Homo sapiens: one gene and its partners. The protein of the gene in region 3 purifies or fractionates together with the protein of the main gene of each other region. This does not show direct contact. Each region holds a gene or a part of one and is shown on either strand. Other genes may lie near its edges.

Region 1 (4,269 bases), on a different chromosome or scaffold from region 3:
TATTTCCTAACGACTTTACCTCAAAGTGTTTGAAGGTGTATGTAGATGTATCGTTTATCCATTCTCTCCATGTATTTGTGTATTAGGCCTTTCAAATTTTAGTAAAAATTTTAGTATAAAGCCTGGCAATGCAATAATTAATTTTCCAACAGTTGCTGCCTTGCACCTCAGACGTCTGGCAAGATGTTATAGGAACTGGTCCTAGGTCAATATTCGAAGCACAGGGAAGCTCTGTGTGACCAAGTCAATGGAACTTTCCTGTGTTCTGGTCCTGAGGTGTATGTTTAAAGCAACGTTTCAAGCAGAAAAGTTTGAGTATTCATCTCTCCTCCACAAATGCAGGTCTTTTTGCAATGGCAATAGAGTAAATAGCCACTTGTGATATTAAGCTTGTGTCAATGATGAAGGGTTGGATTGCATAGGGAACTGATACAGCCTTCTAACCCCGTTCCTCTAGAGATAACACAAACTCACTTAACACTCAGTCTCTGCCTTCAAAGAGCTGACGCTTTAGTTGAGAAATCAGACCTTAACGCACCTCCTGTGTTGTAACAACATAGACCAATATATTCACAATATATAACATTAGGTTTTAATCTCTCTGTAATCAGCTGGGTTTTGATGGGAAAAACCAGGTGGCTGGAATGTACAGTGCCTTTCTGTTTTAACATTTAAGAGGAGGTCACACTCACCAGGGATTTTTCCATTGCACTCTCTCTTTTTAAAAGTTTACAGCGAATAGCTGAACTTACATTTCACTATTATGTAAAAATACTTTCCCTCAACTTTCCAATTACTTAGGGGATAAAAAAGGAGAGGAATACTGGGGTTTTGCAAAGTCCTGCAGGTAAATTCTAAAGTCATTATTATCTTTAATACCTAGCTTAGAAATTCTTTCAACAAGTGGTGATTATTTTCCTCCATTCACATCTCCCCTTCCTAACCCATAAAACAATGTTCACAAATTGAAAAGCACACAAGTGAGAAAAAAATCAGCCTAATTCCACCAGAGGTAAATTTCACTGTTCCTTTCAGTTTTTGTCTAAGCACACGTGACTGTATGTATTGCTTTGCAATCCGCTTTCTTTTTGCAAATATATTTCTTGTGGGTATTTTCCCATGTATTTTCTTAGGTCGCTTTTAACCTCTTCATTCTTTTCCTTCTCTCTAGGGCACCAGGGGCCAGGGAGGCCCAATCTCAGAGCGCTGCGGGCTCTGCTGGTGATAGAAACAATATGGTGAAGTTATAAGGAGAGGGGAGGGGTGGGGGGCGGGAAAGATTCCTTAGGATAGAAAAAAAACAATGAAGAAAGCTCCACTTGAAGACCTATGAAATTTCCGACACTAGAACCTTTGTATATAGTTTTCGGTAACCTTCGGCAGGGGGCGCTCTGAAATTGTTGCCACTTTCCGGACAGCCTCCCATACTTTACCCTCTACAAAATTGTACAGTGTTTCCGGCCCTTCTCAGTTGTGGACGCTCGTAAGTTTTCGGCAGTTTCCGGGGAGACTCGGGGACTCCGCGTCTCGCTCTCTGTGTTCCAATCGCCCGGTGCGGTGGTGCAGGGTCTCGGGCTAGTCATGGCGTCCCCGTCTCGGAGACTGCAGACTAAACCAGTCATTACTTGTTTCAAGAGCGTTCTGCTAATCTACACTTTTATTTTCTGGGTGAGAGACGAAGGCGCCTGGGGCCGGCAGGGGATCCCGGGCTTTTAGTTGTGGGGGGTGTGACCCTGAGCGGCGGGAGCTCAGGTCGGGAACGGTGTGGGGTTTGGGCGGCCATCGCGCCTGGGACCCCGACGCCGGCGACCAGTGACTGGGCCCCGAACAAAGAGCTCAGGCATCTCGCCGGCGCTGGGGTCGGAGTGCGGGACGAAGGCAGCCGAGAGGCTGAGCTGGGACCCAGACGTACCAGCGTTCGAGTTCGATACGGGAGGCGAGGTGGGGCCTTAAGCCCCCAGAGCACGCAGACGGTGACCCTGGACCTTTGCAAAGGCAAGCAAGGCTTGCCCGGCCCCTTTGAGGGCTCACTTGCATAATAGTGTCTTTCTTTTCACTGCTTCGTAAGAGAGGAGTGTTTCGCAGGTAAGTATGGTATGCCTCCACTCCCGCCAGTCTATCCTTGGGCTTGCTTTTGTGTACCAGTCCTTTGTACCCTGTGCCCATCCCTACCTGGAGAGGACGGGGGAAGTTTCTGGAACTCATAAAATCACGTTTTTTTTTTCCCCTTCAAGGTTTTCTTCCTAAGGTTGGAGTAAGATAGTTAAGGAAGTTTTGATCCCTAGGGCAAATATGCCATGGGCTTGTGTTTACACACAAAAAGATGAATTTTAAGAATTTTGATAAGATACCTGGTCCACAGCCTGCTCTTGTGTGCAGATCCCCCCCTAACCCCTTCTACTCTTCCCCCTTGTCTGCCGTATCCCAGCATATTACACCTATTGTGCCTTAAATACCTCATGCGTTGTGATTTGAAGATGCTGCTGTACACAGTGCGTAACTGTTTGTATTCTCTGAATTCCCACATAGATCACTGGCGTTATCCTTCTTGCAGTTGGCATTTGGGGCAAGGTGAGCCTGGAGAATTACTTTTCTCTTTTAAATGAGAAGGCCACCAATGTCCCCTTCGTGCTCATTGCTACTGGTACCGTCATTATTCTTTTGGGCACCTTTGGTTGTTTTGCTACCTGCCGAGCTTCTGCATGGATGCTAAAACTGGTGAGTCCTTGTTTTCATTAGAATTGATTCTTGGTTTTAGAAAAGTTTTGTATGTTATAGAATTCCTTTGTTGGAACTGGCCATGGCCCTTTACAATTTTTCCTGTTCCTTATGGAAACTTATCAAGTAACAGTTCAGCTGCCAGTTTCCACTTTCAAAATAGACATGTTGTTATTTTCCCTGCCCTTTTCAATGAAAACATGATGAACTAATTGAGAAGACGACCATTATTTTTTCTTTGACTCCCTTTGCAGTTGTGCTATATCTTATTTATGCTGACTTGGACTTTCTTTCTTATCCTGCAGTATGCAATGTTTCTGACTCTCGTTTTTTTGGTCGAACTGGTCGCTGCCATCGTAGGATTTGTTTTCAGACATGAGGTAAGCCTGAATTAGGGAAGCTTAGCATGTTACATTTATCCTCTGAGAGATAAAAATGGATTTATTAAAGTAGAAGAGTCAGACCTCTGTATTTAAACCTGTAGCTGACAATAATGGCCTTCTTGTAAAAATTCTGGTCCACTTCTAATTTAAAAGAAAATTTAGAAAATTGTAAAGACTGATAGTCACCAGAAGAAAATTACTTACTTATATTCCCTGTCGTTTTTCTGTGTATAAATACCTATTAAAACGGAGATAGTACAATTTATAACTTTGCTGATAGGAAAATATTCAAAGCACAAAATTGATAACCTTCTTATGCCTTGCATTTTGAAAAGATTGGATATACTTAATGCAAATCATCAGAAGTTTAATATTGGGCCGGGCGCGTTGGCTCACGCCTGTAATCCCAGCACTTTGGGAGGCCGAGGCAGGTGGATCACGAGGTCAGGGGATCGAGACCACCCTGGCTAACACGGTGAAACTGTCTCTACTAAAAATACAAAAAAAAACAAAAAATTAGCCGGGCGTGGTGGTAGGTGCCTGTAGTCCCAGCTGCTCGGGAGGCTGAGGCAGGAGAATGGCATGAACCCGGGAGATGGAGCTTGCAGTGAGCCGAGATCGCGCCACTGCACTGCAGCCTGGGCAGCAGAGCGAGACTCCATCTCAAAAAAAAAAAGCTTAATACTGAATTAGAAAACAGGTAAACTTGGGGTTGTTCAAATAACATTCGGTGAGTAGCAAAGGCTCATTAATGAGAGTTCTCATAAAGTGGTAGCACAGCCTCCCAAAGTAAGGTTTTGTAGCTTACAAATTCCATAGGCATCGAATTTGAACTCAGTTTAAAGTGGAGAAAAATTAGCAGGGTGCAGAATACAGCAATACTGCATTGCCACTCAGATAAATACATATTCCCACAGCACTTTGAACTTGTAGTGGTTCTCATCATATATTTTAATGTTTTGCTTAGTAGTCCCCTCAGCTAACCTATACCCCTTAGAGGACAGGACTGTACCATGGAAGTTAATTACTATACATGTTGCTGCTGTCAAAGATATGACCATTGGTCAGATTCGAGAACTTATTTGACCTGAAACCAAAAACTTTCTAGAGGATTTTCTTACTGACATTGTGTTTCTTTGCTATAGATTAAGAACAGCTTTAAGAATAA
Region 2 (3,500 bases), on a different chromosome or scaffold from region 3:
CAATTCGGCCATGTTTTACTGTTGCACATAAATAATAACAAGGCAAAGAACAGCAACTAGTCCAAGGGCTTGCAGGCCAAGGAACCACAGCATAACCCAAAAGAAAATGACTATTACTGGTTCCACTATTCGTTCTCCAAAATACATCCTTGTGAAGCCCATGTTGATAAGGTTTTTGTTCAGTTCACCAAAAAGTGTTCCCATTTTCTTGTAGTCATCTCCAACCGGCTCACCAGTGTGGTTCTGTGAGTCTTCAACATCCTTTAAAAAAAAAAAAAAAGACAAAACATGAACATAACATGAGAAATATGTAAACGTCTTTAAGAACCTTAGTTCTTCATCTTCCAAAGTGCTGGGCATACTTCTGATAATTATTCTACAAGTACCTGTTAACACAATGGGAATGTTCTTTTTGATCCTGGAATTGCACAAAAATGACTGCTTAAGTGAAGAATCATGTTTGTATTTCTCTTGTGAGTGACCATGATTTCAGAACACCCTTTTCTGCCACCCTCCTGTTTTATGAGGCAAGGCCTGACTGCTCTGTCCTGGTAAGATTCTTTTTAGACGGTTCCTTTGACACTAAGACGTTAAGAAACCGAGCCTCAGATGACCAAAGCATGTTTGCTGTTATTATTGAGCAATCCTCAGCCACTACTGCTGTGATCTTTGTCTTAGGCTCAGCTAAGCAGACTTCAGCGCAGGCCCTTGCATAGTTTCCTGTTCATTATATAGATGCCCTAAATGCCTCTTATTAATTTCATCAGGAGAAACAAATAGTTTTAATACAAATTTTTTTTTTTTACAATAAGGCCAAATGTCTACCCAGTAGTTAGTATCCCAGAAAATGTCTACATGCACCCAATTATACATACCTAAAGTATTATTTCTATTATCTTCCACTTGTATTATAATTAAGGCCATGACAGTAAGCTACTGTCTCTTGGCTTCAAACCCACTCTTTGGAATTCTGCAAGCATTTCTGTCTCCCTGTTAGGCTCTGCCAATAGAGGGACCAGCGTGACACTTCACAGGTAGAGAAGGAAGAAGGAATTTGCTGTTTCCTTCGGATGGGTTTCTTAATCCTGTTAAGTCTCACTCTAGCAACAATTCTTCACTCCGACAGCAATAGTGCCTGCTAGTAGTAGCAGCTGATTGCAATTTGGGGGTTTTCCAACACTTGTAGAACCAATCTCAATGTGCCTTCTTGAGATGCCAGCTCCAATTACTGGGTGCTTCTTCCTCAGATACCTGGTTCCCAGGTCTATAGGCTCCCTCCTCTGAACTCAGAGAAATCAGTACCAGGCAAGCAGTGACCTGTTCTCAAAAGTCTGAATTTCAGTTCCATGGGGGCCTTTTTGAAGCTTCTCAGTTTCAGTAAGTCCATCCATCTCTTTTTCTTTCTGCCCAGTCCTATGAGTGGTTGTCTTGGTGATATTTTAGTGCAGTGGTTTTTAAACTTTAGCATGCGTTAGAATCCGCTGGAGGGCTTGTTAAAGCACAGCTTGCTGGGCCTACTACTAGAGTTTCTGATTCAGTAAGTCAGGGGTGAAGTTGGAGTCTGAGAATTTGCATTTCTAGGAAGTTTCTAGGTGATGCTTATGATGCTGATCTGGTGACCATGCTTTTCCAATACCCAGTTAACAATTACTTATATTAAATTATCTTTGTTAAAATAATTGGTATAGTTTCTCTCCCCCTCCCCACCGCCCCAGACCCTAGTAGAATCACAAAAGAAAAACTGTCATGTAGGTGAGATAATTATAATTTATTTAAATATATTTTATTTAGGAGGCATGATTCAAATAATTATTGAATTATTTGCTCATAGTATGTACATGATGGAGAATTTATTATACGTTTAAAAAGCCTTTAGATATAGGGCTTCACATAATAAGTATTAAATACCATTAAGTATGCCGTATAGGCCAAAGGAAAGCAAAATTAATTATCTTATAAGGGAGTGTCACAAAATCATCTGCCACAAACAGCCAATGAATTTGAGGAAATTTTAAGACATTCTTCAAACATCTGAATCAAACTTACATTCTTTTAGTAGAAACCAAAGCTTGATCATTTCAGTCATCGATCAGTAAATAATTAAAAATATTTTTTTCATTAAAGAAATGGCTATATGAAGCCTTATTTTCTATTGTACACATAGAGTTTAAAATAAATCTTTAAGGGAAGAGTGAAAAAAAATCTAACTTTTGTTTAAAATAGAAAATCAGACAAAATGATTTTCAGTATGACTTTAAGAAATGGGCTTTTCCCATATACTAGTAATTTATGTACAGTAATGAGTACCAAGGGGGACTGATGAGGTAGTAGAAAAATGAGACTCACTGGGGCATCTTTGTTGAGTCTACATCATGTGTTCAAGCCAGATTTACTTTTGAGCTATACTTTTATATAATTTTTTTTTTTGAGACAGTTTCTTTCTTGTTGCCCAGGCTGGAGTGCAATGGCACAATCTCGGCTCACTGCAAACTCCACCTCACACTTCAAGCAATTCTCCTGCCTTAGCCTCCCAAGTAGCTGGGACTACAGGCATGCACCACCATGCCTGGCTAATCTTTTGTATTTACTAGAGACAGGGTTTCACCATGTTGGTCAGACTGGTCTTGAACTCCTGGCCTCAGGTGATCCACCTGCCTTGGCCTCCCAAAGTGCTGGAATTACCAGCGTGAGCCACTGTGCCCGGCCTATTTTATATAATTTTTAAAATTACTTTTGGATTTTCACTTCTATCAGAAAAAGAGTGAGAAGAACAAAATGTTGTAGAGTTATCTAGGGAGTTCACATCCAGGCTGCAACACTTTAACTGAGTGACATGACCTTAGCCAAATTACTTCACTTTTCCTGAACTTCAGTTTTCTAATCCATAAAATGATTTATGTGATCCTTTTTTGATACTGATAGTTTTCTCTTAAGTTATAATTTGTGGATCTTTTCTTTTTTTAAAAAATTGATTTCTAAATTATTTTTTCCTTCACTGATATATTATGACTGGGTCAATTTTATGTTTCTTGTACTTTGATATGATCCATAACAATATACTACATTTTAAAAAAACCCTTATTCTTGCCTAATATTAAAGCTTTCTTTTCTTTAGGGTAGAACTTGAAGAGTCCTCGATTTAGTATGTAATTCTGCTGATCCCTCATCCCTCTCTATTTCTCCAGTGTTCAGCATGTTGATACTGTTTCTGGCCTTTTTTTCTTCATTTTTTATTAAAGTTCTTAAAAAAATTTTTTTTTTTACTCTTCCCAATTTCTTGTAATCTATGCACTCATTGTACTTTGGGGTTTTTTTTGTTGTTACTGAAGCTTTTTAAGACTTTTTTTTTCAGTATTTTTGTGGTTTTAGTACGAAGAAAGTACCCTAATCTGGATGTGGTAGGTACTGTCTGAAGGTTTAAATTCTTTGTAAAATAAATTAAATCTACAAATGCTTGTGGGTTTTTCAGGGGAAGAAGGAGGTGTTGCAACACTTAAATC
Region 3 (3,500 bases):
AGTTGTCTGATCTTGAATCCGTGGTTTTCACACTTTAGTGAGCCTTATCATTCCTATTCCTTGGAGGGCAGCGGGGAAGCTTGTTGGGAAAAGCAGATGCCAGGTCACCCTTTAGAAATTCCGTAGATCTCAGGTGGGACCCCGCATTTTTAACAAATGCCACAGGCGATGAGGCAGGTGGTAGGAGGAGACACTTGATGTTGGGTGTACTTCTTTGAATGCCACAGGCCACCTACTGTGTACAAGGCACTGTGCAAGGGGCTGGAGGGATGAAGGTGAATGAGATGCCGCCTGAGACCTCACATCGGTGGCAGTGGTTACGATGAGGAGGAGGAAAACGAGGCAGGGTCAGTTTCAGAAATCAGCATGTGGACTCAGGCTTCAGCCTTGGATCTGAAGCACAAAGGTGTGGGTGAGAGCAAAGGCCACACCTGGAAACTGTAGGAGCCAGCGAGTTGGGCAGGGAAGGGCCAGAAACCAATGAGTTGCATCCTGGGACCTCACACTGGTGGCGGTGGTTAAGATGAAGAGGAGGAAAATAAGGCAGGGTCAGTTTCAGAAATCAGCACATGGACTCAGTTCAGAGTGGGAGGCAAAATAAAAAACAAGGCAGCCTCAAAGAGCAGGAACTGAGAGAATCGAACGTGAGGAATGTGACAATGGTCACCAGTCTTTTGGTCAATTTCCCAAATGCCCTGCTTTCTGGTCTGGGCCCGCTTTTAACAGGCCATCTACACCTGGGAGGCAGTGCAGAGGGGCGTGGCATTGGCATCTGACTCTGGTGGGTTCAATGCTCACCTGTCATTGTGACCTTGGACAAGATGCTTAGTTCCTGAGAGTTATTAGTCAGGGTTCTCTAGAGAGACAGAACAAGTAGGATATATGGAAGGAGATTTTTTTTTTCTTTTGAGATGGAGTTTCACTCTTGTTGCCCAGGCTGGAGTGCAATGGCACGATCTTGGCTCACTGCAACCTCTGCCTCTTGGGTTCAAGCGATTTTCCTGCCTCAGCCTCCTGAGAAGCTGGGATTACAGGCGCCCGCCACCACATCCTGCTAATTTTTGTATTTTTTAGTAGAGACAGGATTTCACCATGTTGGCCAGGCTGGTCCCAAATTCCTAACCTCAGGCGATCTGCCCGCCTCGGCCTCCCAAAGTGCTGGGATTACAGGCATGAGCCACTGCGCCGAGCCCTGGAAGGGGACTTATGAGGGGAAGTTGGCTCATGTGATCACAGAGGTGGAGAAGTCCCACGATAGGTTGACTGCGAGCTGCAGAGCTGGAGAAGCTAGTAGCTGGCTCGAGCAGGCAGCATGGCACAGTCCAAGTCTGAAATCTCAGAACCAGGGAAGCTGACAGTGCAGCCCCCAGTTAGTCCTGAGAGGTCCCCAGGGGGCCGCTGGTGTAAGTTCCAAAGTTCAAAAGCTGAAGAACCTGCAGTGTGACGTGTAAAGGCAGGAGAAGATAAAGCGTCTCACCCTGGAAGGAGGAAAGGAAGCAAAGAGGACATTCCCCTTCCTCTGCCTGTTTGTTCCTGCTAGGCCCCCGACCAATTGGATGGCGCCCACCTACACTGAGAGCGAGTCTTCCTCTCTCGGTCCACTGGCTCACACATCAGTCCCCTCTGGAAACAGTCTCACAGACACACTCAGAAACAGTGCTCCACCAGCCGTCTAGGAACCCCTCAATCCCATCAAGTTGACACCTAAAATTAACCATCACACTGAATCTCTCTCTGTGTGTGTAAGAGTGTAGTAAGCCAAACAGTGGCCCCTAAAGATGTCCACATCCATATCCCCAAACCTGTGAATATGCTACTTGATGTAGTAAAATGCACTTTGCAGATGTGATTAAATTAAATGGATGGGGAGAGCATCCTGGATTACCCAAGTGGGTCCTGAATGCTATCACAAGGGTCCTTACTACAGGGAGGCAGCGAGAAGATATAAAGACAGAAGCAGAGGTCAGGGAGAAGGTGCTACGCTGCTGGCGGTGATGATGGAGGAAGGGGCCACAAGCCAAGGAATGTAGGTGGCCTCTAGAAGCTGGAAAAGGCAAGGAAGTAGATTTTCCCCTGGAGCCTCCAGAAGGACTCATCCCTGAGGACCCATTGCAGACTCTTCTAACCTCCAGAACTATAAAAGAATAAATTTGTGTGGCTTTTAACCATGAGGTTTGGGTAACTTGTTACTGACGCTGTAGGGAACTATGACAGATATAGAGAATGCTAATTCTCTGCACGGTTGTTGTCAGGAGGGCTCAGAGCCCATGTAGGAAAGGGGCCTAACTCGGTAAAGGTAGTGATGTTACCCATAGGGGCTGAGTCTTAGACAAGGTGAAGAATGTGACCGCACCCACCACGTTGCTTGGCACCTTGTGGATGCTCAATAGAGCTTAGGCTCCCTGTCCCTCCCCTTACAGGTCAGGGTGTCTAGGGGAACCCCATCAGGGAGGGGCTCTGGGACACCTGTCCTAGTCTGCGCCCTCTACACTGCACAGTGTACTACTACTACACTGTAGGCTCTTGGCTCCTGTCCCTTAGCGAGCAGCATGTGTGCTGGGTGGTCATTTCCTGGCCCTTCCCCTCTCCTGAATTTACCTCTGAGGTTGCTTCTGTGTTAACTCAGACACATCAGCTTCCACCTCAGAACTCTTTGGCTCTTGGAATCTTTGCCACATAAAGTTGCCTTTTCCAACTGCCTGTTGTCCTTGCAAGTGGCTTCCTGATTGCTCCTTCCCAGAAGGGACTGCTTGTCCTGTGACTTCCTTGTCTCCCCCAGAGGTTCCAAGACTGTATGGGGCCCCTGGCAGCCCCGTGCAATACCTCCTCCAGGTGGCCCACTGAACTCTGCAGTATGGAGATGAGAGGTGGGCCAGGGTCTGGGCAGGGGTGCCACTCAGAGGACAGGGTGCCAGACATCGGTGGTTCTTCTCTGAGTTCTTGGAGGGTGGACAGCTGGGCCCCAGGCCAGCAATGAGCACACAGACCCCTTTGTCTCCCAGTGCCCTCAGAAGGCTGTCCCCTCTGGCCTCTCACAGGGACATTCGTCTCGGCCTTCACTGTGCTGTGCGGGGCCCGCACCGACCTCCCGGACAGGCATGTGTGCTGCGTCTTCTGGCTGAACATTGCAGCAGCCCTCATCCAAATCCTCACTGCCATCGTCATGGTGGGCTGGATCATGAGCATCTTCTGGGGCATGGACATGGTCATCCTTGCCAGTGAGTAGCTGTTGGTGCTGCGCCTCCTGGGGGTGGGGAGTGGCCAGGGACAGGAAGGGCTTGGGAGACCTTCATGTCTGGCCGAGGTCCTGCTCACCCGCTAAGCACGGGCTCTGGAGAGGGCTTGCCCGTGTCCTCTTCACAACTCCCTGGGCTGCTTGGCACTGGGGACCCTCCCCGCCAGGCCTGGCCCAACACCTGCAGGGAATTATGAGTGGATGGCAGGAGAGTTCCATCATTTAATGCAAACTTGATTCAGACACAGAATGGTTTTGTGAAAGG
Region 4 (3,500 bases), on a different chromosome or scaffold from region 3:
GTTTGAATAGGATCCAAACAGTGCCTACACATTGCATTTAGTTGATGTGTATCTTAAGTCTTTTAATATGTGAATTTCTTTACCTGTTTTTGTTTTGTTTTCCTGCTATTTGTTTGTTGAGAAATCCAGCTGATTTGTCCTATAGAATTACCCACAATAATCCTCATTCTTCAATTATGTTCCTGTATCCCAAGTTTCCTGAACATTTATGGATCAGAAGATTTGACTTATTTTCTGGCAGGAATACTTCCTAGGTGGTGCTGTATACTTCTATTGTATCAGGCCAAGAGGCACATCATATCTGGTTGTCTCACTTTCTGTGATGTTAAGAGTGATCACTGGCTTTAGGTATTGTGATGCTGATTCCTCCTATAGCCTAGCCATCAGCCTAGGTTAGTTATTTCATTATCCTTCTCAAACTGTGGTACCTAATCTATCATTTTTTTCTTTGCACTTATTAGCTATAATTCTTCTATTAAGAACTTTCACACAATACCTTTTGATTTCTCCCTGAGGTATATCATAGAGGAAAGTCAGAAAGATGCTTTATTCTTTCTTTTTATTTACTAATATTCAGAAAAATGAGTAGCTTCCCTAGCATCTTCTAGTAGTGATCAATGGAGTACCTTCTTTTGGAGTATCATTATGATATGATGGATTTTAACATATTTTGTAAACTTTCCTGTCTTTAGCTATTAAAGCCCTTGCAGCTCTCCTTGTTTGCCCTTGATGTGACCTCACTAGTATCCATGGCTTCCTTACTTTCAGGTACTACAAGACATTTTCTTCTCAGACCTGGCATCAGCCAGTTTTCCCATGAGCCACCATTTCTGTCAGTGGCAGATGCTCATTGCTACTAGATTGGCCATTGTATTTTGGCCTTTTTACTGAAGAGAATTAGGCTACAAAAATTTTTTTAAAGAGAAAAGAAATCATGAATTTATATTAATTTTTTAAATGGAAACAAGATTAGATTTTTTTTTACTTATTTGATATTAATCTTTTAGTTTGAGAATCTTGGTTTCAAATTATTGATTTGTTAGGAATAAAAGTACCAAAGGTATAATTAAAAATGTGATTACTGAAAAGAGTTTAAGATTTTCTTGCAGTTCGCTTCTTCACAGGGCAACCCCCAGAATTGGGGCTCAGCCCAGGAGGCCATGTGGGTTCTTGGCTTTGGGCAGGAAGGAATTCAAGAATGCTCCAACAGAGTAAAGTGAAAAGAAGTTTACCTTAAGAAAGTAAAGGGATGAAAGGGTGGCTGCTCCACAGGCAGAGCAGCTGTGAGGGCTGCTGGTTGATTGTTTTTAAGGTTATCTCTTCATCATATGATAAACAAGAGGTGGATTATTCATGAGTATTTTGGGAACAGGGAGGGGAATTCCTGGAACTGAGGATTCCTCCCTCTTTCAGACCATACAGGGTAACTTCCAGAGGTTGCTATGGCATATGTAAACTGTCATGCTGCTGGTGGGAGTTTCCTTTAGTATGCTAATGTATTATAATGAGCACTAAGGATGACCAGAAATCACTTTAGTTGCCATCTTGGTTTTGGCAGGTTTTGGCTGGCTTCTTCACCGCATCCTGTGTTATCAGCAGGGTCTTTGTGACCTGTAACTTGTGAAACCAGTCCTGCCAAGTTCCTGGGCTCCATTTTAACCTTAGGATATAGTCCACTAGGGATATACAGTAAAATTACAGTATCTTAATGTTACTTGAAATCTTCTTCCAAGTTGATAAATAGTTAATTCCTTTCTTTCATTTTTATTTTGATATTTAGGGATTTTTAAATTTTTGTTTTATAATTAAACATATGTTTCCAAAATCAAACCTACAAAAGAAGGAAGGTATAGTTTCCTAGGGCTGTCATAAAGAAGTGCAACAAGCTAGGTGGCTTAAAACAGCAGAAATATATTCTCTCACAGTTCCAGAGATTAGCAGTGGGACATTAAGGTGTTGACGGGCATCTTGTCTCTGAAGGCTGGAGGGGAGAGTCCTTCCTTGTCTCTTCTCAGCCTCTGGTGGTTGCTGGCCATCCTTGGAATTCCTTGGCATGCTGATGCCTCACCCCAGTCTCTGACCCCTCTTCACATGGCCTTTTCCCCTGTGTGCCTGTAGCTTTGAGGCCAAATATTCCTCTTTATGTAGGTACATCAGTTGTGTTGGGTTTAGAGTCCACCTTAATCCAATATGACCTCATCTTAACTTGATCACGTCTGCAAGAATCCCATTTCCAAATAAGATCACTCCACAGGGTCTGGTGGACATGAAATTTTAGGGGACACTATCCAAATCAGTACACAAGGAAACATAATTTTAAAAATAGTGGTATCAGAGTCGATACATCAGAGTATCAAGACCATTTTTTTCTTTTTCAATAAGTTTCTGGATAGGCATATCTCTTTTGTATTTGTGAGTCTTAAACCCAGTTTAAACTTTGGCAGCTACTGGTACTGGCTACCAGGGCAGCTCCAGGGAAAACTGAAGATGCAAATACAAGACGTAGATTTATCTTGTGTTTCTGTCTTCCCTCATACTGCCACTTAGACTCTCCGTTAGGCTTCTAGTATTTTCTTGTTTTTTTTTTGTCTCACATATTATTTCACCCTTGCTATCTTTCCAAAGTAGTGTGCCAAGCTAAAAACTGTCTCTTTTCTTCAAAAGAGGACCACTCCCCACCCTTATCCCCAGTCGCACAGGGTTCTTACCTTATGCTGACTTGATAGGAGGGAAAATAATCTGTAAAATTAGGTGGCACCCGAGTGAAATTCATATGTAATAATACATCAGTGTGTAGCCTTCTCAACACATTTGCATTTTTGCATGTAAATCCGGAGGAAAAATGACTGATAGTGTCATTTTGGGGATTAAAATAAGCAGTTAGAGGAGTATTTTTGGCTTGAGATTTCTTGGTTCATGATAAATTTTAGTTCCATAATAAACCACTCACTCTATTCATAAGATAGCATTTTCTAAGAGTGATATTAGTATAAGTAATAGGATTTTCTAAGTTGAAGTATGCTGAGTCGTATTATTTTTTAAATGCTGAAACTTTTTGAAGCTATTTTGCATTCAGTTATTTCAATTAAGATGCATTTATGTGAAAATACATAGTTTTTTCACAACTTTAGGATTTATCAGTGATCAGAAACCTGTGAAATTCATTGTATTAATAGCTATTACTTAATTGCTTTGTTTTTCAAAAACAGTGTATTTACTTAGAAGTGGCATCATAATTATGTACCTTTTGTTATTTTAATTGAGCATATCTTTATTTCAGGGACTATATTATTCCTATTTCAAGACTATTGTGGAAGCACCCTCATTTTTGAATGGAGTATGGATGATTATGAATGATAAACTGACTGAATACCCCCTTGTCATTAATACATTAAAAAGATTCAATCTTTACCCTGAGGTAAGGTACTTTTTCCAATTGTGATTTTTCACTTTTGTAAAAACTTTTTTGTATTAAACGCTGATTCTAAATCTAAGATATA
Region 5 (3,500 bases), on a different chromosome or scaffold from region 3:
ACAATAGAGACTAAAACTAAAGTAAGAATCCACATACATCTCTCTTTGGATTTTCTATTCATTATTCAGAAAACTTTTCTGCTATGTAGGGCTGTCATCATAATAAAAATTTGCTGTTTTTTGAGGTACTGTTAAGAATCTGATCACATTTCCAAGCATCCTCCTCCAAGGTGTTTGTTACAGTACCTGGATGAACAAATTTACTGGTCCCACTATACTCGAATGTAAAGGTTACTTGAGCAAACAGGGAAGCTGAGCTAAAAAGATAAAACTCTAAGAATAACAACACTTGAAAGGACATTAAGCATGTATGCTTAAGAATGGGTAAGTTAGACGAATTATACTCATCTTTTCTACTTCCTATTTGAAACTTGTTGCTAAAAAGGATGTATTTTGCAAGAAATAAAATGTAGATATTAAATGTTTAAATTTCTATAAGAATGTCTTTCTTTAACCCTAAAATAATTTTTTTTAAAAGAAAGAGCCCAAACTTATTTTTCTGAATGGGAATATGGAAGTGAAAATACTTGCACTCTCTGAAGAATGCTTATATAAAATGAAGGTATAGTCTACAATCATAATGGTCCCATATGTTGTCCTATTAGGGTACTGAAAACCAGCCCCTTGCTCTTCTCAGCTGTGCGACAGAAGAAGATCAAAGCAATGGAGTCCAAGACAGCTGCCCTAGGGATAGGTAAAGCTCCCAGTGCTGCCGTCACTTTCTAGAGGAGAGTAGCCATATGGCACAGATTTGCCACAAACCCAACTACCAGCACCTAAATGATGAGAAGCTGACTCCCTTTGCTGTTTCACACACTGAAACGCTTTCACAAAATAGTCTGAACTTTAAGCCCTAGTATCAGAGAAGTACCTTTGGAAAATGCTGTAGTAAACTTAAAATGTGATCTTTAACATCCCATGCCCAATTTCTTTTTCTGAAATATGACAGTTTATTTTGTAGATCTCCACATTGTGAGTGGAATATTCTATTTCCTATGATATAAATGATATACTTTTCAAATGCCAAAAAACCCCAACCTCTGAACAAAACCAGGCCACAATTAACTTATGAATTCCATATATAAGACAGAAAAATAAAATCAACTTCATTCATTTTTATACAGAATCATTTCATTTATGGTTCAGTAATACAAAAATACAAACATCCATCAGTTCTTTTATTGCTTGTGAAATATTTTATCTCAAGTAACCTTGATTGACGTTCTGTGAAAGGTCTGTCTTCTCTAATAACCTAATCTCAAACCCTGACATGAGTTTGGAAGTGAACAGCTAAATGATTTTTCCTACTCTCCATTTGTACACAGAACAAGAACTACCACATAATTTGGCACAAACTGACGTAACTGACAGTCACTTCCAACTGAAGCATGGGATCAGAAGAGCAAAGCTTTGGGAGGCCAAAGCAAGGTATACTGGTACTTGGAAGGTTTCAAGATTCTTCACCAGGCTATGTACCCATATTATATCTGGCTGAAAGCGGAGCATAACCCTAACATATAATTTTAAGAAGGAGAAAAGAAAAATAGCTTTTTAGGAATTTCACTTTAAAAGTCTCTTTACTTTGAAATTACCAATTAGGTACATAATATGGGGGTGGGGTACAGTAGGGGGTAAATGGTTCAGAATAATGTAAAAGTATCCTAGATCTTCTATAGAAAATACTATGGAGAAATAACAGAGGTTTCGGATACACTGGCAAAGCAAGTCTTTCCATGAAATTTATATAAAGTGATTTAAACAAGCAAATAAGGTGAAAACATGAGGCACCTGAAATATTTGTTAGATTAGTAATACTCTACACCTGCTGTAGAGTATTGCCACCTCTCAAACCCCAAATTACTGCTTTGATGTGACAGTCAACGGCCCCTTGAAATTTTATCTTTTCAAATAATATACTTGCTATGTAATATTTCTATTATTTTCAAAGCAGTAGTTGGAACTATTCAGCATTTGCCACAAAACAAACCAAGGTAGTAATCCATTACTCCAGCTTTTGTGTTCCAAAAGTATATCTGAAAATCAGCCATTAGAAATTTAGAACACATTTTTCTGGAGAAAAAAACTACACAAATAGCCAAAAACCACTTCCAGAGATTTGCAAGCTACTCATAGGGAGTCTCAGAATCCTATTTAACCTATAATATACCAGGAACGTCAGTAAGCCACCATATATAATTCTCTCTCGTGCTCGCGCCTTAGCAGTACTTCCCTAGCTACAGACAGGATCCAGGATTAAACATTGGGAGGAAAAAGCTATCTATGAAAAAAAAAATCTTTCATGAATTCACGTAAAGTTTATTTGTGACTCCTAAATCAATGCCCATGGTGCTTCTGTGGTCATTTGTGACATGTGGAGAATGTCAAAAAATTTGAGTCCCGTAACATACATTTCTAAATGAGGTGAAGCAGGATAATGCTCTGCCTTCTTGTTTTAGCTCTCATACTGTAAACAAGCATACTTTTTGTGCTCTATTTAGTGCCAGTATTTTGCATTTCTGTGCTGCTTTTTGGTAATTTCACTGTTTAAAATGGTCCCCAAACACTGCTGAAATGTTATCTAGTGTTCCAAGAAAGCTGTGATGTGCCAATATGTGTTTCAGATACGCTTTGTTTAGGCATGAGTTATAGTGCTGTTGGCTGTGAGTTCAATGTTGATGAATTAACTGTATTAAATAAGGTGTCTTTAAACAAAAACACATATAAAACAAGGTTATGTACTGGTCAGACGACAAACTATGTGACCAGAGGCCTGCAGGAACCTAACCATGTATATCCCGAGGGATAAGAATTCTTGCTAATTTAGTGTTTCATAGTGACTTTAAAGAACATAACTGTGAATAAGGAGAACAACTATAATTGAGAGATACATAAAGTCTGTCCTCTCTCATAGATTTGACTCCCCTCTCAACCCAGTCCTGGAAAAATCAGTTTTGTCTCAATTAGCAACTCATCTCAACATTTCTTTACCCTACATAAATCTGTGCTGTTTGACTTGTCCTTTGAACTGGTTATAACATTTGCCTGGCTCCCTTATATCAGATGAGTAAAATCCTTCAATACATGTTTATTGTATATCTATGCTAGAGTCAATGTATCTTTTTCTGGAAAATTTCTTTTAACCATTTTGGAGGTCCCCTTGAGACATCCTATAGATTTATCAACCAAAGGCAGGCAAACTTCATCATCGAAGAAATGGTGTACCTTATGCTTAAGCCTGCATACCTCTTTTCTTGGCTCTAAAAGGTGAATCCAAAGCAGTAAGAGAACTCTGCTGACTCTGACTCTGGTCTTTTGCTCTCTACTAATCTGGGGAATTGGTTTTGCAATCTGACCATCTGATGATCCCTGTAAATGGATTAATGGTTTATAGAGGTCTATTCTCTATTGGGTGAGAAAAAATGGAGAATCTAGTTTGTTAATCTATTTTGGACTCAAATCAATTAATAATTTGTCCTCAGAAAAGAACAGCTCTTTGGTAT
Region 6 (3,500 bases), on a different chromosome or scaffold from region 3:
TCACTGCCAGAGCCATCGAGTTAGCCTCGCTGCTTCTGCTCTGCCAGGACCATTCCCACCTTTTCCTGGAGAAGGCTGCATTTCCCAGAGCGCCACTCAATCTCCAGTGCCGAGGTATACCTGCGTTTCAGTGTTTCGCTTGTTTTTATTTTGTTAAACATTGCTCTCTAGAATTCTATAGACCTATCTGAACTTATCTGTCCTATAATTTTGGCTACAGTTGACTGGTTAATTATTTAGCAAAGCCACTGTTCTTTACCTATGGGTATCACCAAGAACTCTGACAGCTAAGTACATCTTAACTTCTGTCAGACTTTTGCAGTATTTCATTCCTTCTAAGCAAAACAGTCACTCTCATTTGTTATGCCAAACATCTACCTCTACGTTTTAAAAATAAGTATTTTTCCAATAATCCAAATATTTACTTTCTGAACACTGATTTCAGTTTTTAAGATGTCAATTAATCTTAGTTCATTTATCCCAATCTTACCAGGAAGAAATATCATTCAGTAAAAGTTTTTTAAAAATAGACACTTTGGGAGGCCAAGGCGGGTGGATCCCAATGTCAAGAGATGGAGACCATCCTGGCCAACATGGTGAAACCCCGTCTCTACTAAAAATACCAAAATTTGCTGGGCATGGTGGTGCACGCCTGCAGTCCCAGCTACTTGGGAGGCTGAAGTAGGAGAATTGCTTGAACCCAGGAGGCGGAGGTTGCAGTGAGCCAAGATCGCACCACTGTACTCCAGCCTGGTGACAGAGCGAGACTCTATCTCAAAAAAAAAAAAAAAGAAACATTTTACTATTATAGCATAAACAAGTGCTTAACATTAGAAGAACTATGTTTTGACAACTGTGAATTTTCTTTTTTTTTTGAGACAGGGTCTCACTCTGTTGCCCAGGCTGCAGCCCAGTGGCACAATCTTGGCTCACTGTATTTTTTATAGAGACAGGGTTTCACTATGTTGCCTAGGCTGGTCTTGAACTCCTAGGCTCAAGCAATCCACCCGCCTTGGCCTCTCCAAGTGCTACGATTATAGGTGTGAGCTACCGTGCCCAGCCGTCAACTGTGAATATGTAATATGAGGAAAATAATACCAATCATAAATCCAAATCAATTCCTCCAGCACATACGTACATATATATATACTTTTTTTTTGGAGACACAGTCTTGCTCTGTCACCTGTTGCCCAGGCGTGAGTGCAGTGGCACGATCTCGTCTCACTGCAACCTCCACCTCCACCTCCTGGGTTCCAGCAATTCCCCTGGCTCAGCCTCCAAGTAGCTGGGATTACAGGCGCACACCTCCACGCCCAGCTAATTTTTTGTATTTTAGTAGAGACAGGGTTTCACCGTGTTGCCCATACTGGTCTCGAACTACTGAGCTCAGGCAATCCACCCGCCTCAGCCTCCCAAAGTGCTGGGATTACAGGAGTGAGCCACCGCGCCCAGCCCCTCCAGCATATTTTTACATGATATCATCTCCTACCACAGAATTGCTCTGTGATCCAGAACTTAAATTCAGAAAAAGCATAGTATAAATTGCTTTTTCTTCACCCCTAAAAGAAAAAACACAATGTTTAATTATCTTCTAAGAAAGCTTATTTTAGAAATAAGAACCAAAGATTAAAAAGTATTAATTAAAAGTAATGAGTAATCATAAATATATTTATATGTTCAGTAATATGTCTAAATATATCTTTCTTAAAATAGCATTGAGCATTTAAAAATTTGGAAAGTAATACTGGTTAACTGTTAGGAAAATATGAAACATGCATATCTCCATAGTCTTAAATAACATAAAACTTTAGTAAACTTTATTAAGGTTACACTAAAATATTAAATAAGCTTATTGAACAGAGACACACTCTTGTACCAGGCCAATTAGTAATCAGCTTTTCTGGGACTCAATCATACAACAGCAATTCTGCCTTCCTAAGTCAAACATTAAGTAAAGAACCATTTCACACAGTATATTCAAGTTTTTAAGATGTTTGAAAAAATGTTTATAGTCTCATTTAGAGGAGTAAAGAGTAGAATATTTACACATGTATAGATGGAAAACAGGTATAAACAAAGGAGTGACTTTTTCCAAGGTCATAAGGTTATAAAGCAAAGGATTACAAATGAGAATAGAATATCATTAATTTGACAGTCAATGCTATATAGGCTTTCCAGAGACTTCTTTTATGCAAGTAGTCCCCAAATTGGAGCACAAATGAGCTGCTAGGATTGAATTTCAGAGCGTAAACTAAGTTAAAGTTAAAAACTGTCAAAAGCCAAGACACTGAACTGATCAAAAACCAAAATAAGTAACTTTTCATTGTTCGTTTGGTCTATATATACTAATTAAGTAAAGCAAGTGAGAATTTTAAAAGCAAAGCAATAGTTTGTCAGAAGTAGCTAATTTTACTTTGTATCTGGTTTGTGGTTACTCCAAGTAATTTCCCGGTTTTATTATTTTTATTTTTCTTTGTGAACAAATTAATTGGCTCTAGATCATAATTTTAGAATCAGTCACCCTTTAATCATCCATTTGGTTAAGTTTGGGGCCACTGGGATAACTATGTGATATAGGTGAAGACTGGTTAAATGAAAACATATTTTAATAAAAATGTATTTGTAAGAAGAAACTGACAAATTTTCAGTTACACAAAGAATAAGACATAGGTAATATGAATAGTTAAAACCTTCGTCCCACTCGAAATCTTTTAAGGGTATTGCTAAAAATTCAGTTGACTTTTCTGGGTTTCATTCTTCCTGCCTCTGCTCAATCTCTAACAGAGGTGAAGCAAGAAGAGGTCTAACCATGGTTAAAGGGAGAGGAGAGAGGCAAAAGAGATGGATAATAAGTTGAAGTTTTAGAAGTCCAGAGTCACTGTTAAAGAAGAAAGAAATGGGTCCATGGCACTGTTACCAGTAGAAACAATATGTTCACCTATACCCGACTTCAGGCTTTCTTGTTTTACAAGCAATACCTATCCCCATGCATCTCCAACACCTGCATTACACAGGTACTGTTTCACCTGTGCTACCCTCACAGGTGCTACCCTTATTTACACCAAGCCTTCTGTTAAGTCTCCATGGTGACTAGAAGCAACCTAGATGCTTCAGATACTGAACTATCTAGTAGTGGCATTATGAAACAGAACCAAACTGATTAGGCAAGCAGTCTAAGCAAGCACAGAGTTTACAAAGCAATTCAACAACCCAACCAAGCCAAAAACACAGATTTCCTAATGCTTAGTCCAAAGTTGATTTGCTGTACTTAGATTCCTAAATAAAAATATGGCTATACAGAAACTCTCCTACCTAGGACTTCTGCAGATGAATCAAGTGGGGAACAAGCACAAAAACATAACATTGATTATTTGGTTTTATGTCAAAAGGAACAACAGAAGTTGGTAGTATTTTCAAGGACAGGAAGAAAATACAGAAGAGATCAATCTGCAGTTCTTGATAACCACTACATCCAGAGTTCAAGGCCAGTAACCACATAT
Region 7 (3,269 bases), on a different chromosome or scaffold from region 3:
TGGTATTACAGGCGTGAGCCACTGCACGCGGCCAGGAATAACAGAGAATATTTCTACTGAATTCACGACTGTCCTGTGCTTGGCTTTATACTCATTAAACATATATGAATTTTTAAAAAGATAAATAACACATAAGCCAATACTGAGACTGAGACATAAATTGACTGGAATAGGTTTTGAGGACATAACCATCTAACCCTCTGGTTCCCAAATGTGATTAGATTTTAAGTAATTGAGGATAGGAAAACACAGGAAAGTCTCCTAGGAGCTGTCTCTATCTGCTCTCTTCCCTTTTTTTCTTCTTCCCACTCTTTCTTGAATCCATTACAATTCTAGCCTGAAGACTGAAATGGCTCATGGAAAAAAATCACCAATGATCTCCATCCACACAGCCAAATTCCATGCTCAAATCAATCCTCACCTTACTCAACCTACCAAGAGAAAGAGATCCAGAAGTCAACCCAGTAGCTTCCAAAGACTAGGCACATAGTTATAAACAATTTTGTTACTGACGTGTCAGCTTTTAATCAGTTATGACCACTGTTGTTCATGTTAATTTCTTGCAATCACTCCTAAGAAAAAAAAATTCTCTCATTCCAAATTACAAACAACCAAATTACAAACATCTGGAACAAAACTCTTCCAAAGGAAACAAACAACTACTTTTATTGTTAAACTTTCAATTCACAGATTAACTTTCAAAGGTTCATATTTCCCACGTTCTTTTTTTTTTTTTGAGACAGGGTCTCGCTCTGTCTCAAGGCTGGAGTGCAGTGGCACGATCTTGGCTCACTTCAACCTCTGCATCCTGGGCTCAAAAAATTCTCCTGCCTCAGCCTCCCAAGTAGCTGGGACTACAGGCATGCACCACCCTGCCTGGCTAATTTTTGTATTTTTTGTAGAGACAGGATGTGTTCCCCAGGCTGGTCTCGACCTCCTGGGATCAAGCGATCCACCTGCCCTGGCCTTCCAAACTGCTGGGATTACAGGTGTGAGCCACCGCACTCGGCCCCTATTTCCCACATTCTTAATGACACCCCATCCACAGTGGTCCAATCAACTTTCAAATTAGCTCTGGGGAAAAAAATACATTTAATGAAAGCTAGAAAACCTAGAGAAGGTCTTGCTCTTCATCTTTCACTGCAGCTATGGACAGCTCGGCACCACATTTGCACCAATCAGCATGTTTGCCCATGTCCTGCCAAGGAGAGAAGTTTACATCATCACTGACAAGGTGTGTTCACCTATTCTCATCACGTAACACTGATGGATTCCATACCTAATTTATCAATCTAAGACATTACTGGACCACGTAACCTTACATATAACTACCTGACCATATTTTCACATGAAGTTGCTGCTGCTTATTATACATCAAAGTTCACGTCAATGTGGCATGAAGTCAAGAGGATTCCAAGCAAACTCCATCAAAACCTTGGGGCTCACAGCATCTCCCAGTGTGTAGATTTTCACATCTAAGTTCTGAAGACATGATCTAAGCGTGGAAGAGCTTCTGAAGTTGACCACTGATCTTCTGAGTGCAAGTCACATCTGGAAATCCTGTAGGCAATGTCATGGGCAAAATTGTGTTCATAAAACTGTGCTTAGGTCTGCTTATGATAGATTATCACGTCACGAAAAAAATGCCACAGAAGTCCAGACTTTTAACCAATCTACTAGCTTCTGCATCAGTATCACAATGCCGAGCTCTGAATTTTAAATGTGCACATATTGTCATATTCATATAGTGACTTAGAGTTTTCAAAGCACTAGGTACATGGTCCTCAAAAATGGTTGGCTTTATATGACCCAAACTAAGGACATTTCACAGGTTTCAATGTTAACGCGTATTGTGAGGGTTTGTGCATAATTATCTTCACACCAGTAAAGGTATTCACTACAATACATAAATTCATTACACAAACCAAGAATAAGCTTCTAACTTATATTGACAGATATGTCACACACGTAATTTGTCCATATTTTACTATTCCATAAATACTTACTATTTCTATCAATAATGCTACTGGAATGGAATAATATTACATAGAAAAACGTAGGAAAACCAGATATAACAAGCTCTAAAGGGCTAAATTTCAGTTATAAAATGGGTCAGAGGCTGAGAAATCACTATTTATCCACAAGAATTGCCTTATAAATCAAAAGATGACTGCAGGTTTCTCTTACATATCCAAATCTAGGAATAAGTTCATTCCATAGCAGATTTGAAAAAACACAAATATAATGTAGGAAGTAATATCATTCATGGCAAACCAACAGCATGAAATTTGGTAGGCTTATTTAGGATGAAAAGGAATAATCTAGATTGTTTTAATACCCTATAAGAGTCCATGTTAAGTCACCCTGACAAAAAATCTTTTTAAAAATATGGTAACCATAAATAAAGTTGCTCAAAGGCACCACACACACGCACACACACGGTTCTCTAATGAAATACCAGTTGAAGTGCAGCATTTTCATTACAGATAGTCAAACAGCTAGAGCTATACAATACACACAGATTTTTCCTAATAGTACCAGCAATCTTAGTTACAAAATAATACTTTTCAGTAGTCTTTCTTGATGCACATTTAAAAACCAGCACAACTCCTCTAGTGAAATGGTCAATTTCCCTTAAAAAACAACATCTGAAATTATAAGACCTGACAAATCATATTATATTTCAATATTAGACTGCTGTGGCTCTAGAACAACAGAAAAGCGTAACTTTCAAACAGCTTAGGGAAAAAGCACTGAAATGTAGATGTCGTCAATCAGCCTCAGGCATTATTGATCCTGTGCCATCCACACACCCTTAAGGTTTTTCACAGCACTCTGACGGTATTATGTGTGTTTTGCAAATGACGAATCAACAGTATGCTGAATAATCAGCAATGAAACACAGGAGATAAATTAAATGTGTTTTTCCAAATGTCAGAATATCGAGGTTCCCAGGAGTTGGCAAAACTTCTCAAGTGGCCATCCAGACTCAGGCTGTGCAGGATAAGGCTTCCTTACGTAGTGAACGGTTGAGAATATTTGCTCCCCACACCCAGAGCCATTCAGGCATATACTGTGCAAAAAGAAACTAAAAATGAAAGAGAAAAAGGTTGTAAGGTTAGAACCCAAAATCAACACTGAAGGAACAAGTACACAGACCAGCACATGAAACCCACCAATCACAACAAATACCCACCAATCAATCACAACAAATACCCACCAATCACAACAAATACCCACCAATCAATCACAACAAATACCCACCAATC

The links.
Region 1: the proteins of STUM (region 3) and TSPAN6 purify together in Homo sapiens (affinity purification with mass spectrometry; one large-scale study listed by BioGRID and IntAct). This does not show direct contact.
Region 2: the proteins of STUM (region 3) and FAM241A purify together in Homo sapiens (affinity purification with mass spectrometry; one large-scale study listed by BioGRID and IntAct). This does not show direct contact.
Region 4: the proteins of STUM (region 3) and DPY19L1 purify together in Homo sapiens (affinity purification with mass spectrometry; one large-scale study listed by BioGRID and IntAct). This does not show direct contact.
Region 5: the proteins of STUM (region 3) and NDUFS4 purify together in Homo sapiens (affinity purification with mass spectrometry; one large-scale study listed by BioGRID and IntAct). This does not show direct contact.
Region 6: the proteins of STUM (region 3) and TAPT1 purify together in Homo sapiens (affinity purification with mass spectrometry; one large-scale study listed by BioGRID and IntAct). This does not show direct contact.
Region 7: the proteins of STUM (region 3) and HSDL1 purify together in Homo sapiens (affinity purification with mass spectrometry; one large-scale study listed by BioGRID and IntAct). This does not show direct contact.

Annotation. Positions count from the first base shown.
Region 1 is NC_000023.11:100,634,007-100,638,275, reverse strand, and holds the start of TSPAN6 (tetraspanin-6), read left to right. Parts: upstream 1-1,469; 5' UTR 1,470-1,581; coding exon 1,582-1,668; exon of another isoform or gene 1,669-2,085; intron 2,086-2,529; coding exon 2,530-2,718; intron 2,719-3,023; coding exon 3,024-3,098; intron 3,099-4,246; coding exon 4,247-4,269.
Region 2 is NC_000004.12:112,183,454-112,186,953, reverse strand, and holds part of FAM241A (uncharacterized protein FAM241A), read right to left. Parts: intron 262-3,500; coding exon 16-261; 3' UTR 1-15.
Region 3 is NC_000001.11:226,593,764-226,597,263, forward strand, and holds part of STUM (protein stum homolog), read left to right. Parts: intron 1-3,038; coding exon 3,039-3,218; intron 3,219-3,500.
Region 4 is NC_000007.14:35,013,486-35,016,985, reverse strand, and holds part of DPY19L1 (protein C-mannosyl-transferase DPY19L1), read left to right. Parts: intron 1-3,280; coding exon 3,281-3,418; intron 3,419-3,500. UniProt on the Homo sapiens protein: C-mannosyltransferase that mediates the C-mannosylation tryptophan residues on target proteins.
Region 5 is NC_000005.10:53,675,639-53,679,138, reverse strand, and holds part of NDUFS4 (NADH dehydrogenase [ubiquinone] iron-sulfur protein 4, mitochondrial isoform 1 precursor), read right to left. Parts: intron 1-3,500. UniProt on the Homo sapiens protein: Accessory subunit of the mitochondrial membrane respiratory chain NADH dehydrogenase (Complex I), that is believed not to be involved in catalysis. Complex I functions in the transfer of electrons from NADH to the respiratory chain.
Region 6 is NC_000004.12:16,219,972-16,223,471, forward strand, and holds part of TAPT1 (transmembrane anterior posterior transformation protein 1 homolog), read right to left. Parts: intron 1-3,500. UniProt on the Homo sapiens protein: Plays a role in primary cilia formation. May act as a downstream effector of HOXC8 possibly by transducing or transmitting extracellular information required for axial skeletal patterning during development. May be involved in cartilage and bone development.
Region 7 is NC_000016.10:84,121,641-84,124,909, forward strand, and holds the end of HSDL1 (inactive hydroxysteroid dehydrogenase-like protein 1), read right to left. Parts: intron 3,089-3,269; coding exon 2,990-3,088; 3' UTR 501-2,989; downstream 1-500.